Linked DNA regions of Homo sapiens. The protein of the gene in region 7 purifies or fractionates together with the protein of the main gene of each other region. This does not show direct contact. Each region holds a gene or a part of one and is shown on either strand. Other genes may lie near its edges. The genes, in order: PIGG, PIGN, CCDC127, PTDSS2, ABCD3, ATP13A3 and SLC16A8.

The links.
Region 1: the proteins of SLC16A8 (region 7) and PIGG purify together in Homo sapiens (affinity purification with mass spectrometry; one large-scale study listed by BioGRID and IntAct). This does not show direct contact.
Region 2: the proteins of SLC16A8 (region 7) and PIGN purify together in Homo sapiens (affinity purification with mass spectrometry; one large-scale study listed by BioGRID and IntAct). This does not show direct contact.
Region 3: the proteins of SLC16A8 (region 7) and CCDC127 purify together in Homo sapiens (affinity purification with mass spectrometry; one large-scale study listed by BioGRID and IntAct). This does not show direct contact.
Region 4: the proteins of SLC16A8 (region 7) and PTDSS2 purify together in Homo sapiens (affinity purification with mass spectrometry; one large-scale study listed by BioGRID and IntAct). This does not show direct contact.
Region 5: the proteins of SLC16A8 (region 7) and ABCD3 purify together in Homo sapiens (affinity purification with mass spectrometry; one large-scale study listed by BioGRID and IntAct). This does not show direct contact.
Region 6: the proteins of SLC16A8 (region 7) and ATP13A3 purify together in Homo sapiens (affinity purification with mass spectrometry; one large-scale study listed by BioGRID and IntAct). This does not show direct contact.

The regions. Positions count from the first base shown.
Region 1 is NC_000004.12:526,473-530,573, reverse strand, and holds part of PIGG (GPI ethanolamine phosphate transferase 2, catalytic subunit), read right to left. Parts: intron 3,536-4,101; coding exon 3,344-3,535; coding exon of another isoform or gene 3,340-3,343; exon of another isoform or gene 3,033-3,339; intron 139-3,032; coding exon 1-138.
Region 2 is NC_000018.10:62,040,409-62,044,402, reverse strand, and holds the end of PIGN (GPI ethanolamine phosphate transferase 1), read left to right. Parts: 3' UTR 1-3,239; downstream 3,240-3,994.
Region 3 is NC_000005.10:198,160-201,153, reverse strand, and holds part of CCDC127 (coiled-coil domain-containing protein 127), read left to right. Parts: 3' UTR 1-2,994.
Region 4 is NC_000011.10:484,251-488,351, forward strand, and holds part of PTDSS2 (phosphatidylserine synthase 2), read left to right. Parts: intron 1-2,640; coding exon of another isoform or gene 2,641-2,688; coding exon 2,689-2,823; intron 2,824-3,169; coding exon 3,170-3,220; intron 3,221-3,948; coding exon 3,949-4,062; intron 4,063-4,101. UniProt on the Homo sapiens protein: Catalyzes a base-exchange reaction in which the polar head group of phosphatidylethanolamine (PE) or phosphatidylcholine (PC) is replaced by L-serine. Catalyzes the conversion of phosphatatidylethanolamine and does not act on phosphatidylcholine.
Region 5 is NC_000001.11:94,421,052-94,425,152, forward strand, and holds part of ABCD3 (ATP-binding cassette sub-family D member 3), read left to right. Parts: intron 1-4,101. UniProt on the Homo sapiens protein: Broad substrate specificity ATP-dependent transporter of the ATP-binding cassette (ABC) family that catalyzes the transport of long-chain fatty acids (LCFA)-CoA, dicarboxylic acids-CoA, long-branched-chain fatty acids-CoA and bile acids from the cytosol to the peroxisome lumen for beta-oxydation.
Region 6 is NC_000003.12:194,484,058-194,488,695, forward strand, and holds the start of ATP13A3 (polyamine-transporting ATPase 13A3), read right to left. Parts: upstream 2,946-4,638; 5' UTR 2,509-2,945; intron 2,491-2,508; exon of another isoform or gene 2,359-2,490; intron 2,180-2,358; exon of another isoform or gene 1,897-2,179; intron 1,779-1,896; 5' UTR 1,737-1,778; intron 1-1,736. UniProt on the Homo sapiens protein: ATP-driven pump involved in endocytosis-dependent polyamine transport. Uses ATP as an energy source to transfer polyamine precursor putrescine from the endosomal compartment to the cytosol.
Region 7 is NC_000022.11:38,080,784-38,085,480, reverse strand, and holds the start of SLC16A8 (monocarboxylate transporter 3), read left to right. Parts: upstream 1-1,296; 5' UTR 1,297-1,493; intron 1,494-2,119; 5' UTR 2,120-2,439; intron 2,440-2,443; exon of another isoform or gene 2,444-2,599; 5' UTR 2,600-2,607; coding exon 2,608-2,821; intron 2,822-3,448; coding exon 3,449-3,592; intron 3,593-3,801; coding exon 3,802-4,641; intron 4,642-4,697. Other genes in the region: BAIAP2L2 (BAR/IMD domain-containing adapter protein 2-like 2), read left to right, coding at 106-181.

The DNA.
Region 1 (4,101 bases), on a different chromosome or scaffold from region 7:
CCACTATATATCTCCCATAAACCTACAGTCTTGAGTTTGAAGTCTGCAGCAATGACTTGAGATTTAAGTAAGTCTTTGGTGCCCGTGAACAGAATGCCAAGGACAAAGACATAAACAAAACGAGCTTCAATAATACCCCTAAAAAAGAGCAAAACAAGTTAGATTCATTAGCACCAGTGAGAAAAATTCAAAAACATTTTCCCATGAAAAACACACCTATCTACCCAGGGAACCAGTAAATGTCCAGCACTGCTGACTAAAGGAGCCGCGGCACCCTCCCTACCCCCCAGGTCCTGTCATGGCAGTGGGCATGTCTCCTCCGCACAGCAGCCCTGAGGAGCCGCCGCCACAGGCCCACAGGTGTGTCCTCGTGCAGACTCTTCCGCTGGGGCTGGCTTCGGGGAGATCTTGCTCATTTGGCTCATCTGGTGGCACGACCCAAGCGGTGCCCTCGTGGCCCGCCTGCTTTGCAGTTAATTAAAAAAAACCCAACGCACTAGTATAAGAGTCAACTCTAAGAAACTGCTGTAAGTTCATAAATGTTCATTGCACAACTGAGCAGATTTAAAGAAGGATTTGCACATTTACAGGTACACATACATGCAGTTATAGGTAAATAAGCACCTGCACATTCACAGGCACACACGCGTGCAGTGGTGCAGTCATCCAACCCGCGGGCTCTGAGAAAAGGCAGAGCTCTGCTCAGTCCGAGCCCTGCTGCTCTGCTCACTAGCTCTCCTACTCGGGCGTGTCAATCAAGACTTCTGACCCTCAGCTTTGCTATTTGTGAAATGGAGAGAAAATGGTTCTACACTTCACAAAGTCATCCTAGGAATTAAGCAAGGGAATGCAGGGAGTGCTTGGCACACAGTAAGCTCAGTAAAATTAAGTACTCTTATGATAGTTATCTGTAAAGGATACAATTACCAAAAAATTTCATCTTACAAAACACGTATGTTCCTAAAACATAATATTTTAAATAAATTTTGTAAATGAAATGCTTCACACAGCCTACAAATCTGATCATTTAAAATAATCGTAATTTTTAATATCATAATATTGTGAAAACTGAATTTTCCTATATTAGATTTTCTTAGAAAGCTTTTACATTAAGAAAGTAAACTTTGATCAGTTTAGTTCAAACAGCCTGAGCACTGTATACCATGTGCCTGGCAGTGTGGCTGCCAGGAGGGGCCCACATCCTGGCTGAGGAGCTGGGGTCAGGTACCTGGCAACCCCCACAGGCCAAGGTGTGTGCTAAGTTAAGAGTGAATTATAGGCCCATCTGCATTCAAAGAAGGGAGAAATCAGCAAAGGTCACAATCACTGGAGAAGTTTCATAGAAGAAAAGGGACTGGTTTCTGTGTCGAGAGGATGCTAGGGCAGGCAGGGTGATGAGCAGGAGGGGCATCATCCAGGGCCTTTGGTGGGTCCTCCTCCTCCTCCCCTGGCCGGGCAGAGTCTGATCCTGCTCAACCAGGCCCACCCCGCTTCCACCTCCACTCCAGCCATCCCTGGGCTTCTGAGTGGAGGACAGTCAGGAACTGAGTGCAAAGGATTTCAGACTCTCAGTGGATGGCAGGGCCCGGGGGACTGACAGGAGAGCGGCAGCTGTTACAATGATCTAGAGCCAGGATGCCTCTGTAGCCAGGACCTATTTACGATCGGGACAGATGGGGACAAAGGACGGAGGCACTTTACAGGAAGAAGGTGAACCAGGCAGTGCGTGTGGAAAGAAAAGGCACACTGGCTAGTTCTGGACACTAGCAAATTACATGCTGCAGGAAGCAGGCCAGGAAAGGGAAGAGGGCCAAGGTCTTGAGATGAGTGATGCTGAAATTCAGTGTATAGATCTGTGAGGAAATGAATTTATTCATACGCTGCACCTTAAACACACACCCGCAAATGTAACATCCATTTGGATGAGCCCTAAGTCTCAGATTCCAAAGTCAACAGCCTTTGAGACATCTCCACAGAACACCGCTGGTACCTGCACGTCAGCATCCTCTCTGCCCCAGGCCCCGGCCCCGTATGACGGCCTGCTACACTCTCACTGCCTCAGCCAGGCCTCAGGTCACCCTAACTCCCACCCCTTACTCCCCACTCAGCCAGGAAGTACTTCCAGGGGTGCCCCCGGAGCCCCACGGCCACCCCTCAGGCTGGCCACAGCCCTCAGCAGTCACCTTGACTTGCTGTGATTAGAAAAGCAACACTTATTAACTCTAGACATCGCTAAGATACAAAAATAAGTAAAAAGCAAGACCACAATCTTATGATTTCAGGTCCTAAATATAATCACCAGTATTTTAAGTATGTAGTCTTTCATATAAGTATGAAAAAAAAAACAGGTACACAATTAGTAAGCTGGGGTCATACCTGTTCCACAACATGCTTCTCTGTTCTGTGAAAATAGGCTGCCTAACAGCCAGAAGACCCCTCTGCAGAGCACCGACCTCACTGAGAGGGTCACTATCAGAGCACCGACCTCACTGGGACGGTCACTGTCAGAGCACCGACCTCACTGGGAGGATCACTGTATTGCTGCTGGATAATTACCCTGGTTGTTCCTTTTTGCAAGGACACTTTGTGAAGGACACTTCAGTGGACATGCCTCTGTCCCATCCCAGGCTCCTGCCTCTGCTTATATTCTTGAGATAAATGGAAACAGCTATTTAAATTTAAATAGAGGGTCACCCACATGTTACAAGCTGCCCTCCAGAACGGCCTCTGCTCATCCCACTCCTGTGTTCACCACCACAACACAATTAAAATCAGAAACACAGTTGCTTTGACACAAAGAAAATAAAATGGTCCTCCTGACTGAGCCCTCCCGCCAATCAACAGGAGCTCCTGGCCCCTTACGGGGGCTCGTTATAAATTACAAGGACGGTCTGATTTTCCAGCAAGCTTCATTTCCCAGCTGCTGGGAAACATCCACTCATCATCCTCATCACCAATTACACCCTGACCAGGAAAACAGAACCCTGGCCATCACGTGCTGCCACTAACTTAGAAACCGATTCACGCTCATCTGTCTGTCCCATCACACACCCTGAAGGTTTTATTTTAAATTTAAAAAATCTTACTTCCAAGTGATTTGTCTCCTAAAAGTAACACATAAAACATAAAAAGTGCTAACAACGCAGCTGGTTGAGGTTTTCTTAGTTACACTCCAGTAGCTGTTGACACAATCACAATTCACAAACACCAAACTCCAATGCTCTGAAGACTGGCTTGGTCTTCTCAGTTCATCAAACAGTGAAGTGGTTCCACGCGCCCCGTGTCCGCCAGTTCTTCAAACAGTAAAGTGGCTCTATGCACCCCGTGTCCGCCACGCACTTACTTGGAAATGTCCTTGCTGTCCGGCCGCCACGGGAACCGGACACTCCCGATGGCCGCCCGGTAGCAGTAGACGCCCAGCAGCCCCAGCGCCAGGGCAGCCTTGGACACAGGGGAGCACCCCCTCTGCACCAGCACAAAAACTACGAGGAGGGAGAGGGCAGCCAGGACAGAGAGCTCGGCTTTGTGGTCAGAGCTGAAATGAGATGGAAAATGCCAGCATTACGTAAACAAACAGCGACAAGATCAATCTACACCAAGTGGCTTTCAAAGAACGGTATTAAAAAATAGCTGATTTTCCCAAAAACCAAAGATTACATGAAATTGTTGATTTTTATTTTCAAACAAAGGTTCTTAAAGTGTAACAAATAAAAGATGGTCAACCTCAGTGGGGTGTGGTGGCTCACACCAGCAATCCCAGCACTTTAGGATGCCAATGCGGAAGGATCGCTTGAGGCCAGGAATTTGAGACCAGTCTGGGCCACATGGTGAGAACTCATTAAAAAAAAAAAAAAAAGACAGTTAACTTGAACTCTCACTTCTCATTCACAAACGGGTCTCCCACCATCAGATGTGGATGCCCAGAGGCCAGGCGGTGACAAATAGAAACCGTCCTCTTGTTCCCTGGTACCCTCTCGGGGTCAGCCCTGCACCTACCAGCTCACCTCCCCTCTCCTGCCTCCTCCCATTAACTCAGTAACGCATGATACGTCCCTAGACCCACATGGCCTCACAGGGTCTGCTGTCACCCGCTCCTGGGTG
Region 2 (3,994 bases), on a different chromosome or scaffold from region 7:
GAATCATGAACTTTCATATTACCTCAAAGGATTTTTTTATCAGTTTTTTTCACACATCAGAAAAAACTGACTGTATAAACACTTATCACTGACCTTTTTCTATGTGTAGTTTTGCCTTTTATCTTTTCCCAAATTTTTATAAAGAGAAATTAATAAATATTTTATTACAACATTGTAAAGGGTGCTCAGTTTTTTTATCTTTCTTTATTTTGCTCTTTGAGGCATATCTTTTTCTTAATTTTGTCCTTTCAGGTCAGTGTGAGTCTGTAGAATAGGTTGAACTTCCTTCTGACAGTATCATAGAGTTTGTGGAGTTTGTGTTGTGTGCCTGCAGCCACAGGCTCGCCTTGCTGCACCGTAACTGGCCCCTTCAGACTCACATGGGAACAAGCCTTTTCTGTTGCAGTTTCCCAGATATCTTTAAATGTTTTGAAATGTATATTTTTATGTTGCAAAACAGAAAAAAGAAACGAGTTAGGGAAAAAGTATTTCTATTTAAGGTATTTATTTTTTCATTCTACCTATGCCATAGATTTCTGAATCAAGACTTAGGACATTTGCTGATTAACAATGTTTAAATTAGGAATTGTTATAAGAATTAAAATAGGCAGAACAAGTTGTGAAAATATTGAACCAAAAAAAGGCCATGCTATCATCTTAGAGGGCCCATGAATAAACCTTAGAGGGAATCCTAAGGCTTTAGGAAACCGCTGCAGCTTGTCTGTCATTTTCCAATATGTTAATTATTATACTTAGTGTACAGTATTTAGAATACAAAATGCTTTTTTATTTTTTAGGAAAATAATGTTATAAATGATTGTATATTTTCATAGTAATGTCTTTATAATTATTTATTAATGATAGAGCTGAATTAGAAAAGCTCTTCATCCATTATAATATGGTTTCTCATGAAAAACTTATTACAAATTTCAGCCAACTCAGATATTAAGAACATCAGTGTCAATCCTCCTCCCCTCCTGCGACCTTTTTACACTTGTTTTGGTGGACTAGGGGCTCCTTTTCTCCTCCTTTTTGACATATAACTGTGCCATTAAAAACATGATTTCTGATGAAGCTGGCCTAGAGGGAATGAAGGAGATTGCGTGGGTATGGTCTCTAGGACAGGCGTAGCTGTTGCAGGGCCACCCTGTCCTTGGGAGAACCTGGTGAGCTCCCATATTCACACTAGATGCCATCATGTCAGGGGGCTGAAGAGAATGGAGCTAATCAACTCTGTCATTTGGAGAAGACCCCCTTCAGACCAGTTCTGAGAACTCCTTCTTTTAAGAGACCAGAGATAACTTGATCATTTCTCACCTTTTCGTAGTTGTTCTTTTTTATGTTGACATTCCCCTTACTGTTTTTAAAATGCTTCAAAGCATTAATGATTGTTATGCTGTGTGCTTTCAGTACTATGGCAATATCTTTGTAGCATTTTCCCATTTCTGTATAAGCATGGTTTTTTGTTTTTTTTTTTTTCGTTTTTGTTTTGAGACAGGGTCTCACTCTTGTTCAGGCTAGAATGCAGTGGCACCATCTCAGCTCACTGCAACCTCTGCCTCCTGGGCTCAAGTGATCCTGCCACCTCAGCCTCCTGAGTAGCTGAGACTACAGGCACATGCCCCCACACCTAGCTAATTTTAAAATATTTTTTGATGGAGACAGGGTTTCACTATGTTTTCCAGGCAGCAGCATTTTTTTTTGACTGGGATTTCTTTATGATGCTTTGTTATTTAAAAAAAAAATGAGAAGGAAACATTAATAATCAAAATTATCTTTAATTGGCCTCACAGGGCTAAAATCTAGAATTATTATTACTCTTGGGTAAACTCATGAAAAGTACTTAATATTCATTCTATAAAGAAACAAAAAGAACCTTTGAGATGTGTCTCTTATTCATTTCCTTGGGTACACTTAAAACGGGTTACAGTTACTGCTCAACTTTCTACCTTCAGAACTGCAGCATTTATTTGCCACACAGCAGCATTTATCAGAGATTGTCCCTTAGAACATTGGTTCCTTGTAATACAAATAAATGTCATAATAAAAATAGTTTCTTTTTTCTTTCTTTCTTTTTTTTTCAAGACAGACTCTGGCTCTCTCGCCAAGGCTGGAATGCAGTGGCGCAATGTCAGCTCACTGCAAGCTCCGCCTCCCTGGTTCAAGCGATTCTTCTGCCTCAGCCTCCTGAGTAGCTGGGATTACAGGTGCCCACCACCACGTCTGGCTAATTTTCATATTTTTAGTACTGACAAGGTTTCACCATGTTTGTCAGGCTCATCTTGAACTCCTGACCTCAAGCAGTTCACCCGCCTCGGCCTCCCAAAGTGCTGGGATTACAGGCGTGAGCTGCCTCACCCAGCTGAAAAGAGTTTCTTAATTAAATATATTTGAGAAACATCTAGTCAAACCACCTTAAATAGGTATATTTACATTAGTTCTAAGGGAATTTAACTTGTGATGTACGTTGTGAAGGGAGGAAGATAGCATTATGCCAAAAGTTTCCACTAGCTTGACAGCAGACCCTGTCTTAGAGTTTTCTTCCTGATTGGTAAACATAAGAAATGTTTCCAAAGCCGGGCTTGGTGGCTCACCCCTGTAATTCCAGCACTTTGGGAGGCCGAGGTGGGTGGATCACTTGAGGTCAGGAGTTCGAGACCAGTCTGGCCAAGATGGCAAAACCCCATCTCTACTAAACACACACACACACACACACACACACACACACACACACACACACACACACACACACACACACACACCCGGCGGGGTGGTAGGCTCCTGTAATCCTTGCTACTCAGGAGCCTGAGGCATGAGAATTGCTTGAACCTGGGAGGTGGAATTTGCAATGAGCCGAGATGGTGCCACTCTGGGCGACAAAGTGAGACTCTGCCTCAAAAAGAAATGTCTCCATATAATTTTGCACTAAAACCTTAATTTGTCATAGTTTTGAAAATAGGGTGTTGTATGTTGATTGAATTTTTTTCCCTGAGAACTGGAATACCATTTTTACTTTAACCCTTAATGTGAGAAAACTTTACAATTTCCTGCAATTTTTCCTGCCTCTGTATATATTACACCTGTCATCATTTAGTCTTTCATGTGGGAAAGGCCAGTGGTACCAGATTGCATTCGGTTCATCATGGCTCATTGTCTAGCCCTGCTAGAGTATAGACTAAGCCTTCATACCTTATGTTTTATATCTTTTACCTGAAAAATAAATTTGCACCAAATTTCAACTTGTTTTCTTATGATTTGACAGTGTAGAAAGTGATTAGTAGTTAAATTTTTATAATGCTTTGTTATTTAAAAAAACTATGAAAAGAAAACATCAGTTATCAAAATTTCCTTTAATTGGCCTCAAAGGGCTAAAATCTAAAATTATTATTACTCTTGGGTAAACTCATGAAAAGATAAATTCTTTTTACAGAAGAATTTAATTAGCTTGACTGGTATCAAATACCAATTGCATCAAACATCAGTGATTCCATGAATTTTTTAAAGTTGTTTTTACTTTAAGCAGATAATGTTCAGTGAATTTGACTAATGTGATTAACGAAGGGACCAACACAGGTAATTGTCAATCTTACAGACATAAACTGTTACCTCGAATATCCCTGTATTACTTGAAATTCTAGAAATCGTCTGTCAACATTTTAAAAGCTCCTCTCCTTGCTGATGAGAAGTAATATTCTTAAAGTTAGAAACCATACAATTAAATCCTGATTTGCCTGATACATGTTTGCTTATCATGTCCTATCTCTCATGCTATTGTGATTGGTTTTATTTTATTAAAAACTGCTCATAGCATAGCCAGGTGATCTATGTGAACATCAACAGTGATAAGCTGACAGTATGTACCCTGGATACATGATGAGAATGGCACTTTAGCTACACGGACTTCCTCCCCAGTGCTCATAAACCCAGTCTAATCATGAGAAAAACAGACAAATATCAATATAGGAACATTTGGCAAAATACCCAGTGAGTACTT
Region 3 (2,994 bases), on a different chromosome or scaffold from region 7:
CCGTGCGATGTTGGGAGGAGCCAGGGTGTTTGGGGGGGCAGCTGCCCTAGACACTGGCTGGCTGTGATGGGGGGCAGCCTGCTGTGTAGACACTGGCTGGCTGTGATGGGGGGCAGCCTGCTGTGTAGACACTGGCTGGCTGTGATGGGGGCAGCCTGCTGTGTAGACGCTGGCTGTGATGGGGGCAGCCTGCTGTGTAGACGCTGGCTGGCTGTGATGGGGGCAGCCTGCTGTGTAGACGCTGGCTAGCTGTGATGGGGGCAGCCTGCTGTGTAGACGCTGGCTGGCTGTGATGGGGGCAGCCTGCTGTGTAGAAAGTGCTGGGCTTGCTCCGTCTGCCTTGACTTGTGTGAGTAACTGCGCTGGGTTTTATAGGTTGAGGCTGAAAAGGCTCCTCTTTCTATGCTGGGTTTGACGAAACAGTTGCTGTATTTCTCTATTAATTTAGGATTCTGTTTGCAAGCAGCAGAGATGGATTTGTGCTAGCCTAGAAAGTTAAAGAGGGATTTAAGGCTGTCTCGTGAAACTTCAGGTCAAGAATGGAGAACACAGGTTAGATGTCAGAGAAGAACCAGAAAGACAAATAAGGGACTCTCAGGGGCCTCGGAGTACTTGTCACTCTGTGTCATATCTCTGCATAGCCGCGCCAATCCCCAAACCAGCTTCTCTGGCCACACGGTGGGACAGGGCGGTTCCCACAGCTCCTGAGCCTGCCCCCTGCCTGGCCTGCTCCAGCGGGCGGCCGAGTTAGGGAAGCGCTGGGCTCCACCATACCGCGGTGTTCTAAAGGAGTGGGAACAATGAAGATCAGGGTTGCAGAGCCTGTGGCCTTTGCTAGCTTCATGGGAAATCTTGAAAAGAGAAAACGAAGGGCTTCAGTAAGCCACCCATGGACAGCAGGCATGCGGTGGAAGGCGGAGGGCTTCTGTGGCAGCTTCGCAGGTCTCTCATCTGCTGCAGACCCCCTGACAGGCTGAGGGTCTTGCTGTCGGGTAGCGGGACCAGATGAGCCTGAATGTGGCTCTGCGGCTCACAGGACAAGTGTACCTTGAGAGCTGCTGCCGCCGCCTGGATGTTTGCTGGGTGAGCTCCAGATTCACGGGAGCCCTTTGTGCCAGCATGGCCGCCCCAACCCCATGGGGAAAGCAGATCTCCCTCACCTGGGAATCTGGCAGAGACCTCAGGCAGTGCCCCATCTTTCATGACCTGCCTGGTCCAGGTAGAGGAGTCAAGTCCTGCTCCAGGAGCAGGTGCAGGGCCTGGCCTGGGTGCCGAGAGTGGGGTGAGGAGGGAGGAGTAACGAAGAAAGGCAGATGGGCAGAAAGTGCCACATTGGGGCACTCAAGTGGCTCTGTTTAATATTCCAGCAGGGACACTGAGACCGAGCCCATCCCTGCTGGGAGAGCTTCTCGAAGCTGGTTGGTGGCTGACAGGCAGGGAGTGGGGTGCTGGGGCCTCCTCGGGAGGTAGGGGTGCTGGGGCCCTGCTCTTGACAGCACTGTGCCATAGCTCCGAGGTGGCTGCTCCCCATGGGCCAGGGCTGGTGGTGCCAGAAAATGGGATCTGGGCTGAGGGGCTCTGGGCTGGCAGAGGTGGGGCGGGGGGTGACTGGCAGGCATCAAGATGGGGGGGGACAAGCACGGTGCCCCCACCCATGGGGCCGTGTGGGGCTGATGGATAGTGGGACTCCAGCATGCAGCAGATGATGGAGCCTTGCTCAACTCAGAAGAGGAAGAGCAGGAGAGCGCTGGTGGATGAGAGCAACCCTGATGTTCCAGGGCCCTTGGCCACGTCCACCACACAGAGGGGCCACGTCCACACAGAGGGGCCACGTCCACCACACAGAGGGGCCACGTCCACCACACAGGGGCCACTGGGCCTGCGTATATCTCCTTGGCCTGCGAGGGTATCATCATTTCCTGACCTGTGGAACAAGTCATTAAGCCAGGAAGGACTTGAGTTGGAGCCCCTAAAACGGCCCCCACTCCTTGCCAGGATGGTGGACAGGAAGCAGTGCCATGTTCTGAAGGAGCTGCACCAGCCCATGCTGCTGTGGAAGACCCAAGGGAGGCAAAGACGGTGGCTCCAGATGGCGGCCCCCATTGGGACCCTGCTCACATCACCCACTGGCCCTGGAAAGCCGGGGTGGGCCTGGGCAGGTGAACCCTGAGGCTCCGCCAGGAGCAGCCCCAGCTACAGCCACCATGGATGTTTGCTGGGTTGGATCAGCACTCTCACCTGCTGAATGGTTTTGCCTGATTCCCACTAGCTTGTCTTGTGTGGGAGGCCGTGTTTTCTGCGGTAGAGAAGTGCTCTCCATAAAAACCCAGCAGGCGTGCTCCTGGGCCCTGCAGACGCCGGATGTGTGGCCACAGACGCCATGCGACCCAGGACTGGAGTCACAAGATTGGGCGAGGACAAAGACCCAGCGAATGGTGAACGGCCATGCAGGATGGGGCCGATCAGTTCAGTAGGAGCAAGTGCGAGACCTGCACAGGACGGGCGAGGGAGGCGTTGGTCCCCAGCCTCTGCTGGCCTTATCAGAATGGGCTGTTCTTGGGAAGCCCCTGGGTGTCTGTGGAGCTGGAGATGTTGGGAGCTTGTGCCCTCAGCACCGCCCACTGACACCAGTGGGCTCCTGTGTGCCCTGCCCAATCCCAGGCCTCAGGACACCCAGCACCCTGGGCCCTTCTCCACTGCCACAGGCCTTAAGGTTGGTCATCATGCCGCCCAGCGGCTGAGTCTTACAATAAAAATTCAGACACAAAGCAGTGGCAGCCACTCTGTGCTTTAGAGTTAGAAGTAAGTCATTAAAAATGTTGGCCCAGCACCTTCCCTGCCTGTTTCCAAAAGCTGGCCGCAATATCAAATTCATGTCCCTGGACAAGGCTCCAGTAAGGCACTGCCTGCAGTGTGCAGAGAGCACTTAGGTGGTTGCAGAGCAGGCAGAGACGAATGTGGGGAGTGGAAGTCACCATATCTGCCCACTCGGCA
Region 4 (4,101 bases), on a different chromosome or scaffold from region 7:
TTGGCTTTTCGTTTTGTTTTTCTGAGGACATCCTGACTTCCTAGCACTGCGGGATGCTCCAGGCTCCTCCTGTCCACTCCCCACCCTGGTCCTGGAATCAGCCCCTTCTCCAAGAGCCTTGGGTCCTTACTGAATATTAGGAACTGAGGCCTGGGTGTTGGGTGGGCTGCGTGGTCCTGGGTGCCATAGCTCACAGAGGACGGGCATGTGTGCACTCACTGTGTGTGCAGGCGTCTGTAAACACAGCCAGTGCAGGGGTGCGTGTGTGCTGTGTGCGCAGGAGAGTGTAAACAGTGCACGGGCGCGTGTGTGCTCACTGCGCAGGCATCTGTAAATAGTGCATGGGCGTGTGTGCTCACTGCGCAGGCATCTGTAAACAGTGCATGGGCATGTGTGCTCACTGTGTGCACAGGCGTCTGTAAACTGCACGGGCGTGTGTGCTGTGTGTGTGCAGGCGAGCGTAAACAGTGCACGGATGCGTGTGCTCACCGTGTGCGCAGGCGAGTGTAAGTGCACGGGTGTGTGTGCTGTGCGCAGGCGAGTGTAAACTGCACGGGCGCGTGTGCTCACCGTGTGCGCAGGCGAGTGTAAACAGTGCACGGGTGCGTGTGCTCACTGTGCGCAGGCGTCTGTAAACAGTGCACGGGCGTGTGTGTGCTCACTGCGCAGGCGAGTGTAAACTGCACGGGCGCGTGTGTGCTCACTGTGTGCGCAGGCGAGCGTAAACTGCACGGGCACGTGTGCTCACTGCGCAGGCGAGCGTAAACAGTGCACGGGCGCGTGTGTGCTCACTGTGTGCGCAGGCGAGTGTAAACTGCACGGGCACGTGTGCTTACTGTGCACAGGCGAGTGTAAACAGTGCACGGGCGCGTGTGCTCACTGTGTGCGCAGGCGAGTGTAAGTGCACGGGCGTGTGTGCTCACTGCGCAGGCGAGTGTAAACTGCACAGGCGCGTGTGTGCTCACTGTGCGCAGGCGAGTGTAAACTGCACGGGCGCGTGTGTGCTCACTGCGCAGGCGAGTTTAAACAGTGCACGGGCGCGTGTGTGCTCACTGTGTGCGCAGGCGAGTGTAAGTGCACGAGCGCGTGTGTGCTCACTGCGCAGGCGTCTGTAAACAGTGCATGGGCATGTGTGCTGTGTGTGTGCAGGCGACCGTAAACAGTGCACGGACGCGTGTGTGCTCACCGTGTGCGCAGGCGAGTGTAAACAGTGCACGGGTGTGTGTGCTCACTGTGCAGGCGAGTGTAAACTGCACAGGCGCGTGTGCTCACCGTGTGCGCAGGCGAGTGTAAACAGTGCACGGGCGCGTGTGCTCACCGTGTGCGCAGGCGTGTAAACTGCACGGGCGCGTGTGCTCACTGCGCAGGCGAGTGTAAACAGTGCACGGGCGCGTGTGTGCTCACTGTGCGCAGGCGAGTTTAAACAGCGCACGGGCGCGTGTGTGCTCACTGCGCAGGCGAGTGTAAACTGCACGGGCGCGTGTGCTCACTGCGCAGGCGAGCGTAAACAGTGCACGGGCGCGCGTGTGCTCACCGTGCGCGCAGGCGAGCGTAAACAGTGCACGGGCGCGCGTGTGCTCACCGTGCGCGCAGGCGAGCGTAAACAGTGCACGGGCGCGCGTGTGCTCACCGTGCGCGCAGGCGAGCGTAAACAGTGCACGGGCGCGCGTGTGCTCACCGTGCGCGCAGGCGAGCGTAAACAGTGCACGGGCGCGCGTGTGCTCACCGTGCGCGCAGGCGAGCGTAAGCAGTGCACGGGCGCGCGTGCTCACCGTGTGCGCAGGCGAGTGTAAACAGTGCACGGGCGTGTGTGTTCACCGTGTGCGCAGGCGAGTGTAAACACAGCTGGTGCCCTGGTGCGTGTGTGCTGTGAGCACAGGTGTCTGTAAATGATGTAAACCTCCCTTGACGTCAGGCCCAAAAGCCTGCCTTGCCCTAAGGTCAAGAGGTGTATCTGGCTGATGCCAGCGTCTGGGTGAGGAAAGAGCAGGTTCCACAAGGGCGACTCCTGTGAGGGTGTTGGCCTGAGCGCGCATGCGGGGAGGGGTCGGGGTGGGGGCGGCGCGCCGCAGTAACTCAGGGCCCCATCCCGCTCCCGTCTGTCCAGCGGTCCTAGACCCCCATGTCCTGAAGCGCACCTGTGCCCACCTGGCCCCGGGGAGCGCAGGTGTGGAGATGGGGTGTCGTGCCTGGGGGTTCCTTCCCCACGCGCTGCCCCACCAGGATTTCCCTGGGGTGGGGAGGGCTGCTGAGACAGGGCGCTGCCCTCCTCCAGGGTGACTGAGATGCAGTTTACAACCATGATCTCCTGGCCGGGCGTGGTGGCTCACGGCTGTAATCCCAGCTCTTTGGGAGGCCGAAGTGGGCGGATCACGAGGTCAGGAGATCAAGACCATCCTGGCTAGCACGGTGAAACCCCGTCTCTACTAAAAATACAAAAAAAAAATACTAGCCGGGCGTGGTGGCGGGCGCCTGTAGTCCCAGCTACTCGGGAGGCTGAGGCAGGAGAATGGCGTGAACCCAGGAGGCGGAGCTTGCAGTGAGCCCAGTTCACGCCACTGCATTCCAGCCTGGGCGACAGAGCGAGACTCCATCTCAAAAAAATAAAATAAATAAACAACCATGATCTCCCGTTTCAAGTTGCCACCACTAACTGTAGCCCCGCTGACGGGGGCACTGGCCTTGCAGACTGTCCAGGACGGCCGGCAGTTTCTAAAGTATGTTGACCCCAAGCTGGGAGTCCCACTGCCAGAGAGAGACTACGGGGGAAACTGCCTCATCTACGACCCAGACAATGAGACTGACCCCTTTCACAACATCTGGGTAAGACGCCGGGGGCCCTGAGGCGAGCCCCTCCCCAGGTGTGGCCCCGTGCCGGACCAGGCGCCATCCACGCTCCTGCCTCGCACCCCTCAGCCCACACTTGGGGTCTCCTGGTGCAGAGATGTGCTGAGGCCCTGTCCGTCTGGATGGTGCTCATGGTGGGCAGGGGGCCCCTGCTCTCTAGGCTGTCGTGGACGTGGTCTCCACAGGCCACGGCAGCACCTGTGAGTCCCTGGCCTTCTTCCCGGGGTCTGGCAGGTGCTGCTCAGGTGTGGGCTGATCTGCCGGTGTGGGGAGTGGGGGTGGCTGTGCCCCAGGGTCAAGGGTCATACCCTGTCGCCCACAGGACAAGTTGGATGGCTTTGTTCCCGCGCACTTTCTTGGCTGGTACCTGAAGGTACGGCACCTCCTCTTCCCGGCCTCCCCGCCCCGGTTCTGAGGCCTGCCGTGGGCTCTGGACCGTTTCTGTCCATGGAGTTGAGCTCAGGGTGCTCTGAGTGTGGTGGGAGGGTGTCGCACTGCAGCCACCCAGAGGTTCGAGAAGCCGTGGGGCTCCCGGACCTCCCAGAAGCCCTGATCCTGGTCGGGTCCCCGCTCCGTCCTCAGGGTCGGGGCGGTGGAAAGAGGCGGCAGGGCAGGAAGTCCCGCCCCTGCCTGGGCTTGGGCACTGCCCCATCCCACTTCTGAGGGACCCTGTGCTACCTATGGGGCTAAGAGCAGTGCCTGCTTGACCCTGCAGCCCACCCTGGCAGAGTTTGGTGTCAGGCCCCGGGCACGGGGATGCTGCCTTGTTTGCTGACAGTCGTACATCGAGGCTGCTGGAGGGGCAGCCACCCACCCCACGCTCACCCTGAGACCTCACTGGGGGCCCTGCCAGTGCTGTCGACTCCAAGAATGCTGCCAGCCGGGGTGGGGGCTGCACGCACCCGTGGGCAGGGCCGGGCGTGGCCTGCGTCCCATACTCTGGCTGCCAGCCGGGTGGGGGCTGCACGCACCCGTGGGCAGGGCCGGGCGTGGCCGGCGTCCCATACTCTGGCTGCCAGCCGGGGTGGGGGCTGCACGCACCCGTGGGCAGGGCCGGGTGTGGCCGGCGTCCCATACTCTGGCTGACCCTGGCGCCCACAGACCCTGATGATCCGAGACTGGTGGATGTGCATGATCATCAGCGTGATGTTCGAGTTCCTGGAGTACAGCCTGGAGCACCAGCTGCCCAACTTCAGCGAGTGCTGGTGGGATCACGTAGGTGCCAGCACAGCCCCCGGGGCAGTCGGTGCAGGC
Region 5 (4,101 bases), on a different chromosome or scaffold from region 7:
TAAATCTCATATATATGTGTGTGTGTTTCTGACCTTTTATTGTGGAAAATTTCACACATATAAAAAATAAATAGAATAATACAAGGATTGCCCAATGCACTTTACCCAAGGAGTACCAACAACATTCTATATTCTTGTTTCATCTATTTCAACCTGCCTGTCACCCCTTATTTTTATAGGTTTTTTAGGTAAAATTTATATACATTGAAATGTACAAATATTAGTTGTACATTTTTTAAACAAATGGATACACTATGTAACACATCCCTATGACAAATTAGAACATTTCTATCCCACCAGAAAGTTCCTTTGTATTCATTCCTGATCAGCTTGTATTCACTCCTGATTCCAGCACTGCTAAGCTAACTTTTTCACCTTAGTTTGCCTAATCTTACCTTTTATTTTATTATTTATGGGGAAAAGAAGAATCTTTTTACTCATGGATAAAGAGGGCTATTTAAAGGAAGTGTCTATTTCAGAATGTTATATTACTGTACTGGGAGCTATAAGATGTGTGTGTGTGTGTGTGTGTGTGTGTGTATTACAAAAATATATGACTTGTTTTCTCAGGGAGCTTACCTTCTTGTTAGGGAAAAGAAACTTAAACACTGATAGCAGAATGAAATGTACAGATAGACATGTCTTAGAAGTTTTGAGAAAGACAAGATTAATGTGTTTGGGAAGGGTTGGGGAAGGCTTCATGAAGGATGTGTGTTAAGCCTAGAAAGGGGGTAGGAGTGGATAACTGGAATAAAGTGACTGTTACAGCATCCTTTATCAGATTTTTGTTGCATTTATGTTAGAAAGAAACTTTGTGGTGCCCTTTCAATCCATCTTCCACTGCCACCAGAGCTCTTTTTAAGAAGCTCAGATATGATCATAATATTCCTTCATTAAAATCATTAATCTACTCTAAAATACAAACTTTCTGTATTCATGGTGTGGTCCTTCCCTACTTTTCCCACTCATCCAACCATAAGTGCTGGGATTACAGGCATGAGCCAACTTGCCCAGCTGATACTTCTTTTTCTTCAAGACTCAGTCAACACTTTGTCTTAGGTGTTTTCTGTCTTTTTCTGATTTCCAAACTGATGTAAGTGTCCTCTGCTTTTATGATACTGTAGGCCAGGGGTCCCCAACCCCCGGGCTGTGGACTGGTACAGGTTGGTGGCCTGTTAGGACCCAGCTGCACAGCCTGTGCAAGCGAGCATTACCACTTGAGCTCCGCCTCCTGTCAGATCAGCAGGGGCATTAGATTCTCATAGGAGCGTGAACCTGTTGTAAACTGCACATGTGAGGGATCTAGGTTGCACACTTCTTATGAGAATCTAATGCCTGATGATGTGAGGCAAAACAGTTTCATCCTGAAACCATCCCCCAACTCAACCCCAATTTGTGGAAAAATCGTGTTCCGCAAAACTGGTCCCTGGTGCCAAAAAGGTTGGAGACTACTGCTCTAGGTATCCCCTACTCTAGCACTTACCATTCTGTATTGTACTAGTTTGTTTTCTTGGCTTTTGCCTACATCAGATCCTGAGTTTCTTGAGGGCATGAACTGAGTCATCTTTAATTCCCTAGTTCGGCTCTGTCATGGGTTAGACAGTGTTTATAGAGAGGATAAATGACATAGGATAGTTGAAGAACTTTTAAGCGTAATTGACAGGCATTTGGAGATGCCTAGTACAAACATGAATAGAAACATTCTTTTTGCAGAAGTAATAGTTGTGTACCTGAGCATATATAACCTGACCTGGGTAGTGGGAAATCAGTGGGCCAATTTTAGAAGGCAGGGAATGGTACCAGTCTGTATAGCCATAGTATTTTATTATCTTTAAAAAACAGAACAGAACAAAGCAGTTTCTTTCGCTTCTTATCAATGCTTGTCAAATAGAGTTCGGATTTCTCATCTTGGATTTCAGAGCCTCCCTCAATCTGGTCTTACTTTACCTGGCTAATCTTATATGCCATTGCCTGCCAATGGGTACTCTCTGTTCCAAATAGGACAGTTTCTACACTGTTCTTTGAACAGGCCACACTCATTTTTGGCTTTGGAGCTTTATTCATGCTGTTACTCATACCTAGAATATCTTTCTATGATATCCCTGTTCTCCAACTCTTGTCATCCTTGAAGGGTTAGGTCAGGGTCACCCTATCCATGAAGTGTTATTTAACTACTCCAGATGATCTAAATGATGATCACCTCTTTTAAAATTTCTGAAGCATGCATTTAAATACCTTTATTGTTTTATCTATTCATTGCTTGACTGGTTATAATCTAGCTAGGTCTACCAAAGTCCACCTGCTTATGGGGTGAGTTTCCTGCTTTTAAAAGCCCCCCTCTGTAAATGGTGGGAACACAGTTTCCTCTCCTAAATATTTCTCAGGAATTTCAGGGAGCTTGTGTTTCTTTTAGTGACATCTTACTTCGCTTCCTTTGGAGCACTTTCTGCTCTATTTTAGAAGGTACTTACATCTTGTCTCTTGAGCCTGTCTCTTTGGCGTCTGCCTTGATTTCTCTAAAGAATCAATCACAAAGCAGATATTTATAGTAGGGCTTTATTGAAAATTTGGGAGGAGTGGTAGGGATTATATCCCAGCATAGTGAACAGCTTAAAATGCTTTTATTTAGAAGTTTTTTGGACATTCCCACTGCTGGAAATTTCTTGACTTTTTTTTTTGTCCTGAGTCTCAGCCCTGTTGCCTGCTGCTGGGCCTTTCTTTACCCATTGGGTGTCCTTATATCTCCAGCTTCTTACTCCCTGCACTACGTTACTGCTAACCCCTCTACAACTTTCCTGCAAACTTCAAAATTCAGCTTTCCTTCCTTAAATCTGCCCCATTCAAATCAAGCTCTAGAAGGGGCTGGCTTCACTTTTCTCAGTTTCACAGGCGCACTGGGTGTTTTGCAAAGTGCAAGCATGAATCATGTGAGGGGCTAGAGCGGCTTGAGACCCTTACAGTTACCCATGAGTAGATGTTATATGGCCCCGTTTGGATCCTCAAAATAAAAAAGAGATGCTTAAGCAACCTTGGATGGAAAAAAAAGCATTGAAGAATTTGCCAGCCAAAGTAGCTGTGTACTGAACCCAACTGAGGCAGATCAGGCCCAGAGCAGTGTTCTGAGAACTGTGTAGCTGTCTGTGGTCTGCTAGGGGGAACTGAGTACAGGTTGTTTAATTAATTATATGTCCCAGTTACTGGCACATTCACATCCTTGGGTAGGCATTCTATTTCAAGGCTTTTGCTCTTGCTGTTTCCCCTGCCTGAAGTGCTCTTTCCTCAGATACTCACATTGCTTACTCTCCCCACTCTTTCAGTCTTTTTTCAGACATCCTTTTAGTGAGACCTTCTATTGCCATTCGATTTATTTTTATTTATTTATTTATTTTGAGACGGGGTCTCACTCTCTCACCCATGCTGGAGTGTAATGGCACCATCTTGGATCATTGCAACCTTTGCCACCCAGGCTCAAACAGTCCTCCTACCTCAGCCTCCCAAGTAGCTAGGACTACAGCCACACGTCACCACACCTGGCTAATATTTTTTGTAGAGACAAGGTCACGTTATGTTGCCCAGGCTGGTCTCGAACTCCTAGGCTCAAGCGATTCTCCCACCTCAGACTCCCAAAGTGCTGGGATTACAGGCAAGAGCCACTGTGCCTGGCCCCTGCCACTCAAAATAGCATCCTGTCTACCTTCCAGACTTTACTTTTCTCCTTAGCACTTATCACTATAAAATATGCTATATATTTTACATATTTATCTTGTCTGTTGTATATGTTTGCAGTATATACATACTGCTAGCATTTAAGTTCCACAAAGGCAAGAATTTTTGTCTATTTTATTCACAGTTATAGCCCCAGTGGCTAGAACTGTGGCTGGAATATATAGTAGACACTCATATTTGTTTGACTCTACAACAACAAATGAGATTCTCATTTTTTGGGGGCTGTGGTTACTATTGTTTTAAATAACACATTCTTTTTGCTACAAATGTAAATGTTGTCTTTAGTATATTTATGAGCTCTTTAGGAGCTGGACCACTTATACCCCCTATATGTACAGGTAAAGCAAGTCTCAGAAACTTAAAAAAATGCTATCA
Region 6 (4,638 bases), on a different chromosome or scaffold from region 7:
CTATTAAGATGACATATCTGATTTATCACCAGAATCTGAGGTTCAGAGATGTTATGTTGCCTAGTCACATACAACTAACCTTATAAACCCAGAGACAGAAACCTCTGTGTTAAGCACATTAACACAGAGCTAGGTTTCTGTCTGTCTTCAAAGTCGCTTATACTGTAAGCTCCTTAACTTCTTTAATTTTTTTTTTAACAAAGAAGAATATTGTTACCTGAAAGTGTTGAGGATTAGTTGAGACCATATGTAAAGAAAGGAGCACTTTTCCTGGCACATAATGGTTTCTTTCCTTCTTCCATTCCATATATTGAATCAAACTATGCTTGTATAACGTGGTGGTTTTGTAACTACTGTGAATATGAGGTTTTAGAATATGAATATGCTTTATTCCTAAGATAAATAGTAATCTTAGGACATAGGCACTATATCATATTACTATGGATATACAACCTACTCAATGGTCAAACTCAGTGAGAATAAGCAGTGATGGGGACGCCCTATGGAACTTTATCTTTATTCTGTCTTTTTTCTCAGTCTCAGTGATGTTGGAAATAAGAACTTTATACTTGTGAATGACAACAAAGTGGTTTATAATCTCGAAAATCTTGAAGACAGAAATAGGATTTCAAAATGAGCTCGATAATGTGGTTTATCCAAAGCGGATTCTGTGTGTTGTATATTTGGTGACCTAAACTAACTATGTAAGTATCAACCGCCAAGCTCGGTGGCTAGCGCCTGTAATACCAGCACTTTGGGAGGCCTAGGCAGGAAGATCACCTGAAGTCAGTAGTTCACGACCAGCCTGGCCAACGTGGTGAAACCCTGTCTCTACTAAAAATACAAAAAATTAGCTGGGCGTGGTGGCACACACCTGAAATCCCAGCTACTTAGGAGGCTGCGACAGGAGAATCGCTGAAACCCAGGAGGCAGAAGTTACAGTGAGCCGAGTTCACACCACTGCACTCCAGCCTGGGCAACAGAGCAAGATGCCATCTCAAAAAAAAAAAAAAAAATTTAAAGCAACCAAATAGTGTCACTTTTCCTACCCAATCCCCTGACCAAAGCCAGGCATTGTTGTTCTAACAAGGCTCAAAATCTCAATTATTTCACTCTCTGCCTGATCTAATGGTAGGATAATGCAAATCAAAGATACCAGCAAAAGTTATGTTCTACAACAATCATTAATAATAGGTTTACTACTTCGAACAACTTCCAAGCACTGATTTGCCTTAAAGGGGTTGCAAACCAGGATGAGATGCCCACACACATTGATTTTTGGCAACTGTAGTCTATTAAGCAAAGCAACAAACCTCTAGAGAAAATAATGTCACATATATTCCAGTGAAACAAAATTAATACATGTACCTTGGTAAAGAGGCTGAGCTCTAACCAAAGATAGAGCACTGTTCATTACGTACTCACCCTTCAAAGGAATCAAATCGAAACACTTTCATTTTAACAACGATACTTTTTAAAGGCTTTATTTTGCAATAATCTTTCAAGTCCCTGCATTTCTTAGATTCCTTAAATTCTAACTTCCTGCCTCATAGATCTAAAGTAGCCATGACATACCCAGGTATGTTCTACTCATTTAGTTAGAATCGTATAGAGGAACACAAGTCTGTTTCTAGGTGTACGACTCCACACCCATTCATTTTGCACTAATATAACCACTAAATATAGCTCTAAGACACTGATGATTAAAAGCGGCTAATTATGTGAGTGATTCATACCTCCTATGTCCAAACACCAAGATTCAGGGATGTCTGTCAGATCTATGGGAAGAGGAAACAATAAACACCTGTCACAAAGCTTCTTCCACACCGGGAAGCCCCCAGCTGAGTTCCTGCCAATCCCAACCCGATTCCCTCCCCCTTCATCCCTACCCCTCACCTCCCCAAAAAAGCCAGAGGTCATACTTCCACCAGAACCTGACTCTGTGAAGGGAATGGAGAGACAGAAAGGCCATAGCGAGAGTGGCCACGAGAGCACTGCTAGGGCAAAGGGCCCTGGGTTTTTCTAGTCCTCACTGCCACAGAGTCCGAGTGGGAGGCCTCAGGCAAGTCAGAAGTCACTTTTCCTCCACGGGACTCACTCCTTTTATCTGTGAAATGCGGAGATGGCAAGCAGCTCCATACTCCACGGCTGAGGACGAGCTAGGGTCCCGCACAGACTCATCGAGGGCCCTGCCAGCACCCCTACGCCTCTGCCCACAGGACCTCCACCTCCCACAGGACTTTCCGAAAGCTCTGACTACCAACCACCAAGCGCCCGGCCCCCACGCTCGCCCCCGGCAGGCGGCGCGTCCCCCCCAGGCCTTCGCACCCACCGCGTGGGCTCCTGCCCTGGCCTCACCTGCCCCCGACACTCCCCGTCCCCGCGATGCCCAACTCCGGCCCGAGAAGGCTGGCCGCGACCTCGCCCGGTACCCGCCGCCCCGACACCACCATTCGCCTCCTCGACCTCCCCCGGCGCCGCTGCCCACCCGCCCCTCGCCCCGCTCACCGGGGCCGCTCACTGGCCGCCGCCGCGCCGCCTCCTCCGCGGCCTCCCTCGCGGCCGGACCAGCCCCAGGGACCGCGGGGGACCCGGCCGCCGCTGTCGCCGCCGCCGCCTCGCCTCAGCCCAGCCCCATCGCCCTCGGCCGGCGCCGCGCGCTGCGGCTCAGGGTGAGGGAAGGAGGCGCCGCGGCGGGGCCGGGCCGGCCCTGGGACGTCCGCGCTCTCCTCCTCCTCCGCGCCCGCGGCGGCGGCGTGCAGCCGGCAGGGCGAGAACAAGGGAGGGCGGCGGGAGGTGGGCAGGGGAGGGGGGCGGTCTGCACTCCGAAACGGCCCCCCCGCCGCCAGCGACGTAGAGAACCCCCCTCCCCTCCGCGGCGGCGCCCGATCACGCTGCGGGGAGAGCCGGCAGGCAGGCGGGGGAGCGCGCGCGGGCTCAGGACTCCCGCGCCGGATGTGAGGTCACGTGGTGGCTTCATCCCCGCGCGGAGGGCGGAGGGGCGCGGGCGACGTCAGGAGGCGGGGAAGGGGCGGGGAGGGGCGGGGCGATTTATAGGCCCCGCCCACCCATCGCCTTTGCCACCCTCGAACGGGCAAAAGAAAGAAAGAGGCAGGTAAGGGGAGGCGAGGCCGTCCAAAAACGCTGGGTGTCAGCCCGGGGTGGCTAATGGAGGGCGGCTTTTCTGGTGGGATGAAATGGAACGGCAAATCCCACTTCATCCCCTTTGGGCTATGACAACATCATAGTCCAATCTCCCATTTTATGAACAGGGAAACTGAGGCTCAGTGACTAGACAGACGTTGCCCAGAGTCATGGTCATGGAGGAAGCTTGTGCTAGAATGGTGGAGAGGAAACCAGAGCCCAGCTCCTAATGCAAGGCTCTTTCATTCCTTTAGCCACCCTCGCCCCCGCCAAAACAAACAGACAAAAAACTGTCATTCTCATATGACCACGGACTCTGCGCCCCGGCCGCAGGCGGAGGACAGGGAGGAGCGCACACGAGAAAGCTCCCACGCGCCCGCGCCTCGCCTCCGACGGGAAGGCGCCTCTTCCGACCGTCCTGGATGCAAATTAAATACTTCCCTCCGCAGAAGACTTATCTCGGGGTAGGGCCGCAGCCGGATTTCCAAATCGCGGGTTTGATTTTCGCTGCGTCCTCTCCGCGACGCGCGCAGGGAGCGCGCCCGGCCACCTGCAGCCTCTGGCTGCGGCCATCTTTCCGCCTGGGGCCACCTGGCCTGCGCCCTTTGTGCCCGGCCCGCTCCGTGACTGTTCTTCTTGCCGCTACTTACAGAACTCAGCCGCCTTAGCGTCTTAGAGAAGAGGACGGCATGCATGCGGACCCCGTCCACCACACCTGGAGAGCAGGGAGCCCTTAGTCCCTGGACACTTACCAGGGCCGCCACCCCTGGTCCACGCACGTGATGACATCTCACCAGGGGCAGCACACCGCCCGAGTCCGCGACACTGATAACACCTCCTGCGGGCAGGAGGGCGCCACAGCCACCCCTGGTCCCCTAGATTGTGTGAGGCTAGCATTTCTGCCCGCCTCTTGGCGTGGACAGCACGCTGGACCGAGATGGAACCACAGCTTTCTCTTCCCAATCCCTGGCCTCACCGTTTTGTTTCATACCTCACCGTTTGTTTCAAACCTCGTGGTGTTGAAATGATTAAATGAGATTAAGGGGTGTGTGGTAGTGTTGGGCAAACCACAAGAAAACGGTCTGGGTGGGGTCTGGCCCTAAAATCTTCCTCCCCCACCTCCCAGGCTTCCTTGCCTTGCTGCTTCCTCTCAGCCTTTAAACAGGTTGGCCTCTCCAAGTCCTAAAAACAAAATTATCAAGCCAACCTCCTCCTGAAGTGCTCCCTCCAACTAGCTTCCAAGTGTTTCATGCGGACCTCAAACAATGGTCTTCCCTGGCTGCCTCTGCTTCCTCATTTCTCAACACTTGGCATTCTGGCTTCTCCTCCCCAACTCTAACCCTTCACCTTGCTCAGGCAAGAGCAACTCATGACTTTCATTTTGCCAAACCTTGCAGGCATTCCTCAGGCCTTATCTCTCTGGTTCTTTCTGCTACATTTGACACCTTGGGATGACTCTCACCTTCTGGAATCTCTCTACTACCTTGGTTTCAG
Region 7 (4,697 bases):
GGGGCAGGAGGCAGGACCCAGCTCAGTTGCCCAGCTGCCTTCCTGAGCCATGGCCAGGTGGGGATCATCTGCCCTTCTCACCCCATTCTCTCTCTCCTCCTACAGGGGCACAAATCCTTTTGCCACTGTCAAGCTTCGTCCCACCATCACCAATGACCGCTCAGCACCCCTCATCCGCTGAGGCGGGGTCCGAGGTCGTACCCCACAGTGCACCTGCCCAGGGGCTGTTCAGAGCTGGCAATGGCAGCGACAGCAGCAACAGCAGCAGATCCAAGAAGCGGGTCCCTGAGACGGGGGGTGGCTGCCCTCCCCAGACCACCCCGGCAGCCTGAGCAGCTCCAAAGCACTGGCTTGGGGTCCGAGACCTTCAAAGTAAAGCAGGCGGAATGGGGGGACAGGACAATTTCTCCCCCTCCAGGGGCTCCAGGACTCTCCCTGGGGGGCCCACCTCTTGCCCCCTAACCTCTTTCCCCCTTTTCTGCCCCCGTGGGGAGGAGCCCCTTGTACCTGCTCCGTGCCCAACACATGCCCTCTCTGTACATCTTTTGTAAATGATGAGAAATAAAGGAAGTGGACGCAAAGTGATGCGGCAGCAGGACTGGTGGTGTCTTATTTGGGGGACAGGGCAGGGGGTGAGGGATAGAGACTCCCCCATTGGAGAATGGGGTCTAGGGGGTACTGAGGTCCTGGCTGTTCCCCGGGAAGCCATCTCACTCCCAGCCCCTTGTTTGTTTGTTTGGAGAACTCTTTAGGGCTGCCCCAAAGCCCTCGCGCTGCAGCCCCCATCTCCACCTGCTCTCATTTCGACCTGTGGGTTTCCTAGGAAGTAGCGGCTGCTCGGGTCAGGGGAGAGGTGGCAGTGGCCAAGGGCTGGGACCACCAGCAAGCTGCCCTCAGGCGGCCTGGACACAGCACCCTTTGTTTTGGCCCCTCCCCCCCCCACATTCCCAGGCACAGGCGTGGATTAGCTTCATTCTAGAGAAAGCTGCCAGCCCCTCCTGGAATGTGGCCTGGGGCGGGGGGTTGGGGCGGGGGCAGATGAGGCACTGAGGTGATTAGAACCGTTGGGGTCTCTTCAGGGCAGGGCTGTGCCCCCAGCACCAGACTAGGACCCCCTGGGCAAGGTCTCTGTGTCTACCACCCCAGGCTCCAGGAGGCACAGGGATTCTCTTCCTCCCTCCTGGACTGGCTTGGGACAGGGAGCCCACCGCCGAGGCCCAGCCTGGCCTGGGGCTCCCAGTCTCTTCTCCCCTCCTGGACAAAAGCCTCTTAGCAGGGGTGAGGTGTGGTGGGGGCACACACTCTAAGCTCCAGGCCTGGGGCAGGGAGCGTCAGGCGGGAGTCGGCCAGAGGCTCAGCCCAGGCTGGTGGGAAGCTGGGGTGTCTGGCAGCCCCCATCCGGGTAAGCTTCACCGGGAGCTGCGGCGGCGGCCCCTCCCTGCAGGCCTCAGGAGATGTGAGGCTGGACCCCCAAACCCACGAGGCAGGCTCAGGTGAGTGTGATGTGAGGGCTGCCTGGGATCACCCTCCTGTCTCCACCTTCAAGTGGCTGCCCCTGTGACAAGAGGACAACAGGCAGGAAAAGCCACAACCTGGTCCTAGTGGAGGAGGGGCAGAGTCCCGGATACCCTGGGGGTGGTGGCACTGCCCAGTGCCAGGAGGGACACTCCAGGCAGGAGGGCAGGAGGCTATCCCCAGCCCCCGGCTCCTGGTGCACCTGTCTCTGAGTACACCCTCCTCATCTGTTATGGGGGCGCTTGTAACTGCTGTGAGGGCCCCGGGTGGAGCCCCAGGAATGAGACAGGCTTTGGAGCCATTCTTTTCATATAGAGGGTTTGAGGTTTGGAGGGCAGAAGGCCACTCTCTCAGTGCTGCTAAGGTTCCTACCTGTCTGGCAGAAGCCAGAGACCTGACTCCTCTCCCGCAAGATTCCCAGCTGGCCTCGGGGTGATCAATCACCCATCTTACATCGGAGGAAAGGGAGGTTGGGAGAGGGGAGGCGACCGGCCCAAGTCAGGGAGGGAATCCATGGCTGAGCTGAGATGCATGGGAACTCAGCTCCCCTGGCTGATATCTGTTGAAAGTGGCTTTTGTCCCCTTAATGTTCTAATGACAATAGTCATTTGTGATCACTGAGAAACATTAGGAACATGGCGGAAGGCTAAAGAGGAAAATCACGCACAGCGGCCCTTTGCAGCCGGCATCTGCCCCTCTGCTGTTTGTTCTGTTGTCCCGAGACCCTCACGCGTACGGGGCGACTTTGGTGCTGGACGCCCACCTCCAGGCACATACCTGCTCCACTTCCCGACGCCTTCCACCTGAGGCCCTGAGGGGCCAGCAGTTGTCCTTCAGAGGGAGCCTGCAGAGGTGCAGAGTCAGGTGGGACCCGTCGTCCTCCCCTCGTCCTTCAGCGCCCTTTGCAGGAGAAGGAGACTTGGGGTGAGAGTCCTACCTCCGTTTCCCCTTTTGGTTCCCAGACCTGAGCCACCCTCACGTGGGTAGCCCTGTGCCTCAGTTTCCCCATGCTTCGTCTCCATCCCCCTCCTTCTCTAGGCTGCTGGCCCAGCCCCTCCCTCTTGTCCCCGCCCCCTCCCAACAGAGGCAGCGATGGGCGCTGGCGGCCCCCGGCGGGGCGAGGGCCCCCCAGACGGCGGCTGGGGCTGGGTGGTGCTGGGCGCCTGCTTTGTGGTCACCGGCTTCGCCTACGGCTTCCCCAAAGCCGTGAGCGTCTTCTTCCGCGCGCTCATGCGCGACTTCGACGCCGGCTACAGCGACACGGCCTGGGTGTCCTCCATCATGCTAGCCATGCTCTACGGCACGGGTCAGTGTCCCCGCCCGGCCCTCCGCCTCCCCGGGACCCCTGGGATCCGGAACCAGGAGACACCCGAGCCCCTGAGCATCCCCCTGACCCTCGGGGTGGCCCCCGAAGTCCCTTCCTGCCTGTGGGAACCCTGGCACCAGAAAGAGGGGAAGAGAGGGCGGGAGGGAGACAGCGGCCAGAGGCGGGGCCGGCCCAGGGGGCTGCCCTGCGAGCTCAGAGGGCCCCTTCTAAGACCACACCCGCCCATTGTAGAGGCAGGAAAGCTGAGAGCCACAGAAGCACTCCCCCTCCCCGCAGCCCTGACCTGTAGGTGGGGGCTTGCTGGAGTTCCCATCCTGGGAGGCGGGGCTGCGGAGGAATCCCAGTCTGTGCCAGGGCGGGACTTGGAGGCTGTGAAGGTTAAAGGGGTGCGGAAGCCCCCGCTCCGCTTGGGGTTTGGGTTCGCAGGATGGGGTGCTCTGGGCCTTGCCCTCGCAGGATGCTGTCTCTTTGGCCTGTCCCCTCCAAGCTGTGTGACCTTGGCCAGACACTGCCCTCCTCTCTGTGTCCCTGAGCCGGAGGTGACCTTATTCCTTAGAGGACTCAAGCCATCCCGGGACCCGGGTGGTGACCCTGCCCTGCCCACAGGCCCCGTGTCCAGCATCCTCGTGACCCGCTTTGGCTGTCGCCCGGTGATGCTGGCGGGTGGGCTGCTGGCTTCCGCGGGCATGATCCTAGCTTCCTTTGCCACGCGCCTCCTGGAGCTCTACCTGACCGCTGGGGTGCTCACAGGTGAGGGCCCCCTGGTCTCCTCTCCGCTGGGTTGGGGGTCGGGGGTTCTTGCTGCAAGATCTGTCCTCGGTTTCCCTATGAGGGACAGTCTTCGAAGTCCCTCGGCTGGGTTCCCGGATCTGCTGGGTTCCCGGGCCTGGCCCCTCCCTCCTGTGGGGGCCAGGGAGGGGCTCTCCGGGGACCCCGGCACAGCACCGCCTCGCCCGCAGGCCTGGGCCTGGCCCTCAACTTCCAGCCGTCGCTCATCATGCTGGGGCTGTACTTCGAGCGGCGGCGGCCTCTGGCCAACGGGCTGGCGGCGGCGGGCAGCCCCGTGTTCCTGTCCGCGCTGTCGCCGCTCGGCCAGCAGCTGCTGGAGCGCTTCGGCTGGCGCGGCGGCTTCCTGCTGCTCGGCGGGCTCCTGCTGCACTGCTGCGCCTGCGGGGCTGTCATGAGGCCGCCGCCCGGGCCGGGCCCGCGACCGCGCAGGGACAGCGCCGGCGACCGCGCCGGGGACGCTCCGGGCGAGGCGGAGGCTGACGGTGCGGGGCTGCAGCTGCGCGAGGCATCCCCCAGGGTCCGGCCCCGCCGGCGCCTGCTGGACTTGGCAGTGTGCACCGACCGCGCCTTCGCCGTGTACGCCGTCACCAAGTTCCTGATGGCGCTCGGGCTCTTCGTCCCCGCCATCCTGCTGGTGAACTACGCCAAGGACGCGGGCGTGCCCGACACCGACGCCGCCTTCCTGCTGTCCATCGTGGGCTTCGTGGACATCGTGGCGCGCCCGGCGTGCGGCGCCCTGGCGGGCCTGGCGCGTCTGCGGCCGCACGTCCCGTATCTGTTCAGCCTGGCCCTGCTGGCCAATGGGCTCACAGACCTGAGCAGCGCACGCGCGCGCTCCTACGGCGCCCTCGTCGCCTTCTGCGTCGCCTTCGGCCTCTCCTACGGCATGGTGGGCGCGCTGCAGTTCGAGGTGCTCATGGCGGCTGTGGGCGCGCCCCGCTTCCCCAGTGCGCTGGGCCTGGTGTTGCTCGTGGAGGCCGCGGCTGTGCTCATCGGACCGCCCTCTGCCGGTGCGCCCCGAAGGAAGAGGGGGTGGCGAGCCTAGTGCCCCTTAGACCCAGGGAAG